2 separate regions of the Homo sapiens genome follow, and region 2 is linked to region 1. A link means that fine-mapping ties the variant in region 1 to the expression of a gene that starts in the linked region. Tissue or cell type: ovary. Region 1 holds a variant in brackets; the other region holds the start of a gene. All regions are shown on one strand. Distances are from middle to middle.

Evidence for each region. PIP is the estimated chance that this variant, and not a neighbour inherited with it, causes the effect.
Region 2: CCDC186 starts here. The variant in region 1 is fine-mapped to the expression of CCDC186 in ovary (GTEx, PIP 0.98).

What each region holds. Positions count from the first base shown.
Region 1 is chr10:113,223,936-113,226,619 of GRCh38, forward strand. No RefSeq gene overlaps it. Among named protein-coding and RNA genes, the nearest start is that of SNORA87, 180 kb to the left of the region's middle. The variant G/A (reference allele first, on the strand shown) is at 1,348.
Region 2 is chr10:114,173,078-114,175,761 of GRCh38, forward strand. CCDC186 (coiled-coil domain containing 186) reads right to left here and starts at 1,126. Exons shown (of 16, transcript NM_018017.4): 1 at 938-1,126. MIR2110 (microRNA 2110) reads right to left here and starts at 1,102; the gene lies at 1,028-1,102. It also overlaps a transcript of TDRD1 not described here. RefSeq lists enhancers at 808-1,336, 932-1,131 and a silencer at 1,192-1,461.

The DNA.
Region 1 (2,684 bases):
GGGCTGCAGAAATGTTCCTGTTGGCAAGGCATCAGGAAGCAGGAAGAGAACATCCTTGCACTTGGGGATCTTTGAGTCTTCAGAGTCGTGGATTGAGGTCCAAGTTGATGACAACTCTTGGAAAACCCTCGTACTAGAGATTAGGGTGAGATGGCTGGCCATGTTGGTCTCAGTCTATGACATCCAACACTTCTAGCCCAAGACTTAGGAGGTGAAGGGAATGAGTCATGACTGTACATCTACTACTTACGTTTTCAAGATGAGGATGTCCTTTGTTTCTACGGACAGACACCCTCTAGGAACCCTTGAATTTCATCTTTGTATTCTGCAGTCAATATCGCCAAGTGTCTCTTGAACTTGCTAACAAGAAGAGACCAGAGGTGAGTTGACACTGCCGTTCTCTTCTTTTCTGAAGAAATAAATAAATAGAAGTTATTCGAGCTACGTCTCTTCAGCCTAGTTCCCTGCAGGACAAGATGCACTGAGATGCCTAGGATGGTTAATATAGATGTTTAGACTCTCCAGGCAATGACCCTTTTAGCCATAGAGCCTGAGTGTGGCCAACTCAGGTGGAAAACACTCATAGGGCGCACTCAGCTGTGTGCTGGACTGAGTGAGGAGGCAATCATGATTTGGAGTCCTTGCTCCCAGGCCCTGCAGAGTCGAGAGGGAGGGGTAAAGATGTACACAATAGCTCAAATACAAAGCACGTGCCATGGTAGGGGGCTCAAATGAAGAGACAGTTATATCCAATTGGTATAAGTCAGTGGTTGGGGGCATGAAGTACAGCATCAAAACAGGCTTTGAAGAAAGAGTAAACTTTGAGGTGACATTTGGACGATGGTAGGATTTTTATTGTTTATTTGCTCACTTATTTTTTTAAAGAAATGATATCTTGCTATGTTGCTTAGGCCAGCCTCGAACTCCTGGGGTCAGTGATCCTCCCAACTCAGTCTCTGAAGCAGCTGGGACTACAGGCATGTGCCATTGCACCTGGCTATTCACTGTTTTATTTCTGATACTTTTAAATAATAAAAACAATACAGTTCATTATAGCAAATATAAGAAGCATAAAGAAGAAAATTAAAATACTCATAATCCCAGCACCCAGAGAGAAAACACAAGTAACATTTTGATGTATTCTTCCAGATTTTTATTGATGTGTGTGTACACACACACACACACACACACACATATGCACATACATCTGCACACATACACATATATATTTCACAAAATTGGGCTTATACTGAATAAATACTTTTGAAGTCTACTCACTTAGCAGAATAATGGGTTTTCACATATCATTAAATATTCTTCAAAGACATGATTTATAAAGTTATGCAT[G/A]ATTGTCCAGTAAGTTAACTATTTTCCAATACGACATTCAATTTGTTTCTATTTTCTCATAATAATGAATAATAATGAATAATGTTTTGCTTAGCTTTCTTATACATAAAGCAAATAGAAAAGCTTTTTCTCTACAGAGATCGGAGTGCAGGTGGAGGTGGTGGGTAGAGGCCACTCCAGAAAGAGAACTCAGGGTGAGTGAGTGGGTGGGGACAGAAGGCACAGGGGGTGTGGGAAAAGCAAGCTGTGCTATCTGGCTGGAGAGTTGGTGCTTTTAGGGGAGCAGTGGGACAAAAACAGAGGCTGAGGCAGCTTGTAGAGGAGTGGGACTGGCTGAGTGAGAAGCACAGTATCACCTTTACTGAGAGGCAATGGGGAACCACTGATGGGCTTTGAACAGGTTAAGGACAGAATTAGAGAAGTGTTTAAGGCGGTGAATCTGAAAGTGGTGTGAGGGTGGAGTGGAGGAAGGAAGAGGGGGAGAAACTGGAGATGGGAGATGTGTTAGGACCCCTTAGTAGTGTCAAGGCAAGAGGTGGTGAGTGCCTGAACCCTGGCAAGGGCAGCCAGGATGGAAAGGAGGGGTGGTTGGAGGCCATGACTCTAAGACAGAAACTGGTTAGGAATGTGGCCTATGAAGACAGAGGCATCAATAACCTTCTGACTCTGAGCCTTAATAAGTGGGAGAATGGAGAAGGCATAAAGAAATTGAGGCCCAGAAAACACAGTGACGTGTGCAAACTCGTGACCGAGTTAGTTAGAGGTTAAACCAGGCTGGAAGCGAGGTGCCCAGTCTTCCGGTCAGGAAATCATGAACGGCAGATGTTAGAGTTCTCGTGTTAGATGCTAGATGCGGCACATCCTGGAGGATTAGATGTAGTGGATCCTGGAGCCTACGTCTGAAAGCGTATCAACCCAAGGAAAACTCCTGTCAGCTGTGACTCTGGTCCTTAATGTTTATTGGAACATGGGCTGAGCACTGCCCGTGGATTAAGCAAAAGGGGCAAAAATAACAATAATAATAATAATAATAATAATTCAACTTCTAACTTAGTTCTTCAGTAGGCCAGGTCAAATGAGCAGTCATGAAAGAGAAAAAGAGACAAAAAAAGAGAGTCTTGCTCGCCATTTCAAAGGAAGGGCCAGCAATGTGTGTTTTTGCATGGAAAACCTTCTTTGGCTCTCCAGCCAGAGCTGATCACTGATCCTTGGCGGCATCTCCTCTCGAGAGACGCTGGGTTAATGGAGCACATGAGGCCGTCCTGGAAGGCAGTGAACGGTTTTTTCCATTGGGTGAACATCTCATCATACATGTACGCATAGTTCCTTTTTATCTC
Region 2 (2,684 bases), 950 kb after region 1:
GGAAGAAAAAAAAGCTGGGCATCAAAGGAACATGACACACATGCAGAGAAAACGGCCAAGTACCTGGGACTGTACTGCGTATTTTTACTATATTCTCTCTTCTGATTTCCACAGGTAACAAGATTATCAAGTGAAAGAAGTAGGATTCTAATCCAGATGTTCTGACTCGAAATCCAGGACTTTTTCCTCTAAACAAAATCAAGATGGGAATATTAGGTGAAGTTGTTAAACTGTTAACAGCTAAGCAATACTCACACCTGCACTGTTTCCCAAGATTGCTACTTAGGGACACGTAGAAGGGTTTTTGTTTTGTTTTTGCCATTTTTCATTACTGATGGAGACATAAATCTGAAACCCCTTCCTTACCAACCAAGGTTTATGAAATGCCTTGACGTCCTTGAAAGACAACATAAAGAACAGTATCCACCACTCCAAAGAATCACTTCTAAGGAACTTAGAATCACAGTAATGGAAGTGTTTGGAAGAGGGTAACAAGTCTTCACAACAGTAAATATAAAACACCCACATACAGTCAACTTGAGACGAAAAACGAAATAGGCGATTGAGTCTAGGAAAGATTCTCGAGCAGGTAGGGCTTGGCTGCAGTTCACACGCAGCCCAGGCAATGGGCTCGAATTCAGACGCTCTCGAGGCACAGCCCCCACGACCCCCGCTGACCCCTCTTTGCCACCTCCAAGGTCCCGGAACCGAAGGAGGAAGGCAGGGAGAGGAAAGGGCTTGAAACCCGTTCCCCAGCCCTCCCCTTCCTCCGCGCCCTCAAAGGAGCCAGGCGGGGAGCCCGCTCGACCTCGACCTCCACCTCGCACTCGCCCTCGCCCCCGCCACGGAACGTGCAGGAAGGAGCGGAAGGCTGGCAGCCCCACCGCACCGCCACCGCGACTCACCGGTGTGCCCCGAGTACCCCTCAGACACTTACCCCACTTATCCAAGCCTCAGGCCACGCCCTAACAAGGCTGCTGGAGCTCTGGCTCAGGGGCCAACTTTTCCATAGCGGGGTCCAACCAGCCAAGAGTGGGAGGAAAAGACCGCGGTGAGAAACACAGCCGACGCCTCACTCAGCGGCCGTTTCCCCAAACCCCTGCGGAGCTGACACATCAACAAAGATGGCGGCGACACTGAAGCCGGCCCGGTTACAGCTGAGGGGGCGGGGGCTCCCTGGAGGAACCAATCAGCGCAGCGCGGGCGGGGTGACGCAGCACACCTTGAGGTCCTGGGTAACCTGTCTGCAGTGGGCTGGGCTGGCGGAGCTCACCTCCCACCTCCCGGCCCAGGAGGCCCCACCTTGCGGCCCGAGAGGCCCCGCCCCGCACTCCGCCTGGCTGGGCACCCACGCCTCCGCGACCTGGAGAGCCGGGTCTCCTGCCCTTTGGTCGGGTTCTTCCTTTCAAGCTCCTCCGGACCCACGCAGCCTGTTTCTTTCTGCAGGACGCTCTTGTTGGCTATTACTCCTCCTCACCCTTTGGCCTGCATGAGTCAGGGACATAAAGCAATAAAAGAGAATTTGAAATTGTGGCTTCCCGGCTCTCATGCGGAAACCTTGCACCTTACGTGGGCGGAGTCGGCTGGAGCAGGCTACGATGGGGGAGACCTCTGGGGGTTCCATAACAGCGCGTTCGTGTCTTCAGCGTGGCGCTGCTGCCATTGTTTAATAATAAACTGTCGGTGCCTTCGTCTCTGGCTTCAAGCTGAGCGCATTGATGGTAGGAAGTGTCCTCTCCCGGCTGAGTAACCTGGCACGCAGCATGGCAACAAAAAGTGTATTGGGTACAGTTGCCTCGCCCGGCCCAGAGAAGGAAGGTCAGCAGTTCAGTCTCTGGAGGTTTCGCAAACCTCCTCAGTCCGGGGAAACGATGTTCTTTGGTTTAGGTCTTACACATATCTCATGAATGAAAATAGCTGATGCAGACGATTCTGCAATGTAAGAATTTGTAAAGCAAAACTTACTACTGTTCTGTTAAGCGTCTTCGATACTGTTGGCAAAACACACACACGGAGGTGTAATGGCACCTCACTCCTCCTTAAATGAAGGTACTACACTGAAGCACATTTTGCAGTTAAAGTGTCTTGTCATAGAAAATAAATGATTTGACTTTAAAACAATAAATCGACCAAGCCTTCCTAGGGAGACATTAATCCAAGGGGAAAAAACTGAAGAAACCTTAAGCTGTTTTCGGTACTCGTCAGTAATAACATAGGTATTACTATTTCTGAATATTTCTGAATTTATAATTAGTATAAAGTATATAAATATATCTTTGTGAACCAAGTTTTTCACCATAAGAGAAAAGAAATACAAATATAAACCAAAGACATTATATTAAAATTCTGCAATCCTATATTTGAATTTACAAATATCAGAATTAACTCATGGTACATTTTTTTCGTGAAAAAAAAGGTGTGTCCACTGAAAACTCTTAGAACAGTGACCAACCCATTGCACACTCCTATTCCCCAGATTGTGATCTCTAAAGAGCATTGCCCAAAAAAAGTTACCTTGGCTTCTCTTGGAGGTTAAGTGCTGATTCCCAGTAGGGGCAAGAAATATGCAAGATAGCCTAGGACATATTGCTTGTAGCAGAAAGCAAGGAAGAAAAGCAAAGATAACATGAACTGTACCCAAAAGACTCAGAAGGCAGTTCAAAGATGCCCCAACTTCTCAAACA